2 separate regions of the Homo sapiens genome follow, and region 2 is linked to region 1. The links come from fine-mapping of genetic effects on gene expression. A gene starts in region 1. The other region holds a variant in brackets. All regions are shown on one strand. Distances are from middle to middle.

Region 1 (4,521 bases):
CATTATGACAGCAATTAAAAAAACATGTTTTCCTTATGGAAATCTTCCTGTTTCAAAATCTCCAAACCCCCAAGATAAATCCAATATGTAAATCCAAGTATCACTACTGTTTTTCTCCTCATAATGCCCTTAAAGCAAATATTTTCCTTGCTTTCTATAATCGGAAAGAGGATTCTGAGAGTATCTTGGCTCCATACCACTTTATTTTTTTGTCTTTTCTTTTTTTCCCCTCTGTGGAGAACAGAGTCTCACTATGTTGCCCAGGCAGGTCTTGAACTCCTGGGCTCAAGCAATCCTCTTTCCTCTATCTCCTTAAGTGCTGAGATTCCAAGTGTGAGCCACCATACCACTTTAAACTCCCTAAAGGGAGGGTCCTTATCTGCAACTCCCACAGCCACCCCCGCCCTATCCCCAGCAGCACTTAAACCAAGTATAAAGAATGTCTGGTGGGGGTGGGGAGAAACAGTTAAGCAAATACTGTAGTTGGAAACTGTTACCGGTGCAAGACAGGAGCAGCAGGCTGGGATGGAGAATTCCTGGGAGGAAGAAGTGGGGCAGAACCCACTGATATATGGAGTTCCACATTTATACCTTTGTAGCAGTCAAATCTAAGAGTTTAACACGGTGGCTCCACGTTGTAATCCCATCAGTTTGGGAGGCCAAAAGCAGGAGGATCACTTGAGGCCAGGAGCTCGAGCTCAGCCTGAGCAACAAAGTGAGACCCTCATTTTTCTAAAAAAAAAAAAAACCAAAAAACCATAAGCTTAAATGATCGAGTATTGGAAACGCTTTCTAAGGCCCTGGAAAAATAGAAGTTTTCTTAATAATAATGTTAGCTTCCATGTATTGTAAACCTAAACGAAGCAAGAATAAATGCTGGGTGCTGTATATAGCTCTATCAACCTATAATCACCTCGAAAACTCGAGGAGACACATTCAGCTGCTCCCATTTCACGGATGAGGAAACAAGTACGCAATCCTGAAGCTGGTGCAAAGCCCAGGCCCCCTTTCTTTTTCAAGCGTGCTTCCAGCCTCTGAAGTTCCTCCGTACGGACCCCCAGCTCTGCCTGCAATAAGGAATATTCACTTTGCCAACAAATATTTATTGAGTGCCTGCTATATACCCCTTAGCCCGTTTAAATAGCCGTGGGATTAAAAAGATAAATAGGGCAGGATTTTTTTTTTTCTTCCAGGAAGGAGCTTTCTGAAGGGTGAGGGAGAGGCCAGGTAAACAATCCCAGAACAGTCTGGTGAGAGTTGGGAGAGGAGTCGGGGGGCCGCGGGACGCTCAGGAAGCGAAGCGGGGAAGGCTCCGGGCGCGTCGCAGGACCCGCGCTGGAGATGGGTTTGAAGCCCTGTCCTGAAAAAGCCGGCCCGGAGTGGGCTGTCCCCGGTGTCCCTCGAGTTCTCATGCTGTCATTCAAGCAGCAGAGGAAGAACCGGGTCTGGCTCGGGAAGGGTGGGCTTAGGGCCAGGGGTGCAAATCCCTCGGTAAAAGCCGGCAAACTAAAAGTCGCACACATCCCAGGTCCCGGTCCAGGCCCCGGCGGGGCAGGGTCCCCGAAGTCCCGGGGCGCGCAGACGCCGGGGCCCCCGGGGGCCAAGGGAACGGCGGGACCCGACCTCCCTGCCCTCGGCCTCCCGGGCCCTCGCCCTCCGACCAGCCGCTGAGTCGGGGGCTGGGGTCGCCGCTTCCGCCCGCGGCCCGCTGCCCCTCCCCGGCGCGCGCCATCCGGCCGCCGGCCCCTCCTCCCGCGGGGGGCTCCGTCCCGCGCCCCGTCCCTCCGGGCTGCAGCCGGCAGCCCACGTCCAGGGAGGGCGGAGGGAGGAGGAGAGGCGCGGAGAGGAGGGAGGGGAGAGGGGAGGGAGGAAGGCGAGAGAAAGGGAGCTGCTTCCATCCCGGACTTCCCAGAGCCTGCCTGGAGCGCGTACTCAGCGGCTCTCGGGTCCCAGCGTCCCAGCCGCGGCCCGCGCTCCTCCGCCCCGCTCCTCCTCCTCCTCTTCCTCCTCCTCCTCCTCTCTAGGCACCCCCGTCCCCTCCTTCCAGCGGCTGCAGCCCCCAGCCCCAACTCTCCGCGCTTACTCCTGGGACGCGCGTCCTCGCCCCATCCTTTGCTTCCTTCCTTCCTTCCTTCTTCCTTCCTCCCCTGGCTCCCGCCCTCCCTCTCCAGGTCGCCCTCCCGGGGCCCGATTGTCTCGGTGCCCCGCTCCCGGCCCGCGCCCTGCCCCGTCTCTCCCTTGCACTTCCTGAGTCGCCCGCCGCCGCCGTCGCAGACTCGCCGCGGGAGCCCCAGCCCAACCCGAGCCCGACAGCCACTGCCCCGGCTCCAGCTCCAGCCCCACAGCCCGCGGCGCCCGCCCGAGGGAGCCCCGGCGCCCGGGGAAGGCTCCAGTGGGCTAGCGCGCCCTCGCCCAGCCCCGCGCCCCAGCCCTGCCCGGCCCGGCGAGGAAGGACCGGGAAGATGAACAACGGCGGCAAAGCCGAGAAGGAGAACACCCCGAGCGAGGCCAACCTTCAGGAGGAGGAGGTACTGGGCGGCTCGGTGTGGTGGCGGGGGCGACGCGGGACCCAGTGCGGGCGGCCGGCGGGGCGCGGGCCCGGGGCGCGGCGGTGGAAGAAGGTTCAGGCATGGCCCGTGCCCCGGACGCAGCCCCACAGTGTGGCCCGGGGAGGGTGGATCTCGGGAGCGTGTGTTTTTGTGTCCACGCGCGTCTGCGGGCCCCAAATTGCGTAACTCCAAGGACTTTTCGGAGACTTTTGTAAGTATAATGCTCAGCTTTGTTTGCCCGGGATTTATAAGTGGAACCGAGAGCTGACTCCTGGGTGACCTCAGATAATCGGGACTCGGAGGGTCAGGACTTAGGGCCGGGGCTGGAAATTGTGTATGGATTCAGGGTCGGGGGGGGAGCAGTTTAAGGAAGAAACTCGGGGGAAAGTTCTCGTTAAAAGATACCTCTATTCCCTGCCCCCTCCCTTTCCGTGTTAAAAGTTCTTGGTGAAATATCTTTCTAGCCGAGGTTTTTTGGATTAATAGATAACTCATCAGCCACATTCTTCTCTGCTGAGTCAAAGACCCCGAGCCTGGGCGGTGAACGCTTGTGATTTTAGGGGCCGTGCAGCTGAGGGGAGCAGAGTAAGAGGGTTAAAAACGCAGCAATTCACCAAATGCTCATCGAGGGTATTTTCATAGGACTTTGACTTCTGAGCATGCATTTTAGGTGGTGCGTCCGTAATCATGATGAAAGTTTTGTGACTGCGGAGCGTTCCTTCGGTGGAAACAAAATTGAGTAGATGTGGTCAGAAGGGGAGTCGGACTCAGGAACAAACGTTTCAGAATTCAGTAGGATATTTGTGGTATCCTACCAAATGACTCTTTTTGCAGGTACGTTATCTGGAGTCCAAGAAATTATTTCTGGCGTACTTCTTAACATCCCACACAGTTGAGTTCTTAAACATTCTAGAGGAACTTGAGAGTGTGTGTAGATGCAGGAAAGTGCACGTCTAAATATGACCCGAAAAGATTCACACAGGTATTGGATCCTGATATAGGTGAACACAGAAGGTAAACGGATTCTAAAGCGTTAGAATGTTGAGATCATTGTTGAGACACTATGTTGTGTGCAAACTTCAATTCTGATAGTGAAACCAAAATTGCAGAGGAATTCATTAATACATACAACTTCTCTGCACATTGTCCACTTGGAAAATGGTAACTATTTAGATGGAGAAGGTAGAGGAGCGAGACTATGCCAAACAATGCAAAATAAATAGGAGATTTTACTCGTCACCCAGTTGTATGGTAGTGAAAACCTAAATGAATTGCAGTCAGCCAAAAATTGCTTTTTCACCCGAGGACATTTTCTATTTTATTATAAAAGACTATTTGAAGAGTTGTTTACTTGCATGTTTTCTAATTACAATTGTAGGAATGCTACTGGCATTTCTTTTTTCAAAGCGATGGAGAGTTGAATGGTGTGTTCTGATTTTTTTTCTTGAACTTTACTGGCTGCTTTGCTATTTATTTTCCCTACCACTTAAAAAAATTTAAAAATAATGACAAGTGTGCTTTTTTAGGAATTACCATATTTAACTAATTCACTTACCATATCAAGATAATCATCGCTTCAGAAATCTTTCTGTTTCAGCTAGATGTGCAATCTGTTTGCTTCTCAGGGTTAGAATATTATATGAAACCATCTTTCTTTATTCACCCAGTTGAGAAAACTTTTTTTTTTCCTTTTGGTAGGTAGCAAAAGAGGTTCAATGTCCTAAAAATCATACCCACATTAAAATTAAGTATAGAAAAGTCACATTTTTCTGCTTGACCCCTCTTAACAGCTGCCAGGACCAAGGGATTGCCTGCCCTGTTCCTGGACGCTCCTCCGTCCTTGTGAGGTTGTGTATAATAATCGCTGTATAATCGCGGGCCATTGCAGTACAGTTGCTGCCTCTTACTTGTCCTGTTATCTGACAGCGTTCCTTTTCAGGTAGGAATGGCATGTGGCTCTAGAAAGTATCGG
Region 2 (4,000 bases), 190 kb after region 1:
CCCTCATGGCATAAAACCTCATGGCATAAAACAACTTTACAGCCTGCATAGAAAACCTAAGAATATTCATTACCAGTGAGGTGTTATTTAAAACACTCATCCTCAATAAATGCCTCTCCTAAAACTCTAATAACTATGATAATGAAAAACTGTATGTTGTCAGCAATTTGATCAAGAGCACTAAATTAGGAAATTTCAATAACTGCCACTGTAAAGCTATCTGTCCCTGCTGTAGAACATCCCAGATGGAACTAATATTAACTCTTGTGTGAACTGGCCTGGCTCCATAGCTACCCAATCCTGAGAGATGCCAGTGTGCTGTGAGAACTAGGCCCCTCTGCAGCTCTCCAACGAACCTGCCACTTACCTCTTCCTGACCCTCAGTTCAAACTCATTCCTATTTGGGGGGCGAGGGAGGAGGGAGCTCTTCCTACAAACCGTAATAATTTGCTGGTAAACATAAACAAAACAGTGAAGGCTTCCATTCTCCACCACTGTTCACATACATCTCACCTATGGACGATCTGAGGGGAAGAGAAAATTCGGGTCCTTGTGTTCCACTTGTCCAGTTGAGAAATTCACGTGGAACTCTGCCCATGGTCGTTAATTCCAAGTTAGGAACTTGGGCCAAATGCTTAAAGTCAACCCAAACTTCTCTTCTGAGCAAAAAGGAAGGCCTAAATGCAATGAGAAATGATGCACGAGTTAAATAAAAGATTTACCTGGACAAAAGAGCACTTTTTAAAACTACAACATAAGCTTTGGCGTGGGGGCTTAGCAGGCACTTCAAAACCTCACAATCACCACCCACGGGACAAACCTGCTCTTGGCGCTTCTAGAGCTGGTCCCGCCTAAATCAGGATATGGTTCACTCAGTTATCCCCTGCTGGCACCCTTCTGTGTTTTCTTTAAAGGAAAGTCTTTGCCTTTTCTCCCTTGACATGCAAGCCCCACGAAGTTGTGGCCAGATGAAAAGTCACTGGGCTTTCACCAGGGTCTCAGAACCACATGGTTAAGTCACACAAATGTGCTGGTCCCATCCCCAACCAGTGGAGTTGGATTAGTCCCCTCCCCATCTGCTGAAGAGCAGGATCCACATTTATTTCTAATGGAAATCCAGGGAAGCAAAATGCACTGTCGTTCTTTACACTGCAGCCAGAGGGGGGCCAACCGTACAGCGCCAGCCAGGGCCGTCTAGCTCTTTGAGTTTCCAGCGGTGCTTCCCCCAACACTCCAGACAGGACAGGGATGGGTGTTCTACGGTCCAGTTAGTCTGAAAAATGGTTTCCAAGAGGTCCTTGGACCATCCCACCACAACTCCCACAGAACACCTTCTCATCTCTCAGGACAAGCCCACAAAAACCACCCTGAGAGACCTCGAACCTGCAGGAAGGTCCAGGAGGGCTGCTCCGCCTCGCTGCAGAAGGCGCGGCACCAGGCTGAGCTTGTCAACAGTCAACCAAACCTTAGAAAACCCCAAATCCTCCCCACAAATGAGTCATCTGAAAGTAAAACCCGTGGCTACAGGGAAGAGACACTGAGTCTCATCCTCTATGCCTCAGAAAATCACTATTAACTAAGAATCAGGGAACTGATAAACCAAATGCCCTCATCCCACAAAACCGTCCACACTGACAATCCCATTCTACTGCTACAGATTTCAAACGGCTCACAGATAAAGACAGGGCTGTCCACTCGCAGTCCCTTGAACGCTGGGGCTGGAAGGAACGGGATGTCCTGCGCTGCCTTTCCACTAAGCCTCTGCTCAACAGGTGTCAAGTGCCACTCTGTCCCCTGGGTCCCACCATCATCTGGCCACATTTACAGGCTGTGACAGCAGCAGCCAAATGTTCGGTTTTTACACTCTGTCCAGGCTTGACTACATTTCCCTTAGCTATCCCCTAAAAGCCTCACATCATGGTGATGAATTATAGATCAAATGCACTCCCGACTGTCATACCCTCTTAACTCACCGAGCCGTGCCATTCCCACGTGCTTCTAAATGGCCAGCAGAG[C/G]CACCAGAAACGGGCAGAGGCGAGAACATGACTTCAACTTGGTGTTTCTGGTGGATATGTTTTCAGACACCCAGAAGAACTGCGAAGAGACAGCTTCTCTGTATAGCATCCCTCGGAGATGCTGCAGACTTGGTTCCAGGCCATCGCAATAAAGCAAATATCACAGTAAAGTGGGTCACACAAATGTTTTGGTTTCCCAGTGCATATTAAAATGTTTATGCTACATGATAGTAGAAAGTGAGCAATAGCATTATGTCTTAAAGAATCCAATTATATACTTTAATTTAAAATATATTATTGCCAAAAAGTGAGCACATGCTGTTGGAAAAACGGCACCAACAGATCTGCTTGAAGCAGGGTTCCCACAAACCTTCAATATGGAAAAGAAACTCCACTGTATCTGTGAAAACACATAAAGCAAGTACAATAAAATGAGGTGTGCCTGTAATATGACCGTCCAACACAAGTAACCTTCCATCAGTGTTCCCACAAACACTGTATCCTCAACATGTCACCCGATGATGCAACCCCAGTACCTTGAGATGGGGTATATGGAGGATTTGCTCTTACATGTAGTAGACTGAGTGGGTCGAGGCTTAACAAAAGAAACTGCAAGTGAATGAGATAAAGCTACGGAATTTTGTTGAGTACAGCAATTTAGTGAGTCACTTCATTTTGCTAGATCTTCATTTCTGAAATGAATTTTAGACAAAATAACTGAAATCAATTATCAGGCCAGCCCACGAAGTACTGCTGAGCACAGGCATTGCTAGAAGTCACAACCAATAACACAACTGGCAGTAAGCGCCTTATCACAGAGATGGAGAACCTGATCACAGAGCCCACGACGGAGGCCCTGATGCCCATCTCCCTGCAAAGCAGATGAGATGTCCAAACTGTACTTCCAGACCTGGCCCATAAAATAAGATGGAGTGTGGAGATCACAAAAGTAGGTACCTACCTGGAGATAAGCTAACTCTAGATTTTTTACAGGAAAGCTAGTTTCATGCCATAAGATATTAAAGCTCTTCCTTACCAGAAAAAAACCTTATACAAAGCAAGACAGGCTGTATTTCCTGTGTTCTAAATTATCGTGGGAACCTCAGTTACATCCTCTCCTGCCATGTTTTGGGGCTTGGAGGTAAGAAAGAGGTAAAGCAAACAGATAACACTGTAAAGGGATGAGAGGTAAGTAGAAAAGAGAAAACAACTGAAAAAGCAAAAAAAGGTTCTTTGTCGTCTGCACAAAGCACTTCCTGCTCTGGGTTTCCATCATGCCTTTTCTGAGAACCAACACCTCGTTTCCTAATCCACTACTATCCCATGCTGTGACGGGAGGACCATGACCACCAGCACAAAGGACCACAGCAGAACATAAACAGTGCAGGTGAGGAAAATGCAAACTTTGCCGTAGAAAGCAGAACCATGTGAATTTCCCGTGAGTCACCCTCACTCTAAAGAACACTCACATATTTGGTAATGGCTCTCATGAGCTGGGCCGGTGACAGAGGGCATCTCCACCAGAACCATCTCCGGTCAGGCCACATGAGGGTGGAGGCATGGTATAGCTGACGTTCAGGTTGACGAGGAGACACTACAAAGGCTTGCCATCCTGGAATTTACCAAACCCAAGAAGCTGGACACTGATACTTTTTTTTTTTTTTTAAGACGGAGTCTCGTTCTGTCACCAGGCTGGAGTGCAGTGGCACGATCTCAGCTCACTGCAACCTCCGCCTCCCGGGTTCAAGTGATTCTCCTGCCTCAGCCTCCCAAGTAGCTAGGAGTACAGGCACATGCCCCAACGCCCAGCTAATTTTTATATTTTTAGTAGAGACAGGGTTTCACCATGTTGGCCGGGATGGTCTCGATCTTTTAACCTCGTGATCCACCTGCCTCAGCCTCCCAAAGTGCTGGGATTACAGGCGTGAGCCAGCTTGCCCGGCTGACACTGACGCTTCTTTTTAAAAGAAAACATTAACAATGAC

Evidence for each region. PIP is the estimated chance that this variant, and not a neighbour inherited with it, causes the effect. A credible set is the group of variants that fine-mapping cannot tell apart.
Region 2: its variant is the best candidate, but not a certain one, in a credible set for the expression of RBPMS in lung (TOPMed, PIP 0.74).

What each region holds. Positions count from the first base shown.
Region 1 is chr8:30,382,631-30,387,151 of GRCh38, forward strand. It overlaps RBPMS (RNA binding protein, mRNA processing factor), which reads left to right and starts at 1,911. Exons shown (of 9, transcript NM_001008710.3): 1 at 1,911-2,528. The coding sequence starts at 2,463. RBPMS-AS1 (RBPMS antisense RNA 1) reads right to left here and starts at 2,771. Exons shown (of 3, transcript NR_046205.1): 1 at 2,514-2,771; 2 at 914-1,067. RefSeq lists enhancers at 1,698-2,368, 2,369-3,040.
Region 2 is chr8:30,574,322-30,578,321 of GRCh38, forward strand. GTF2E2 (general transcription factor IIE subunit 2) reads right to left here. Exons shown (of 8, transcript NM_002095.6): 8 at 3,997-4,000. Among named protein-coding and RNA genes, the nearest start is that of SMIM18, 62 kb to the right of the region's middle. RefSeq lists a silencer at 1,432-1,481. The variant C/G (reference allele first, on the strand shown) is at 2,016.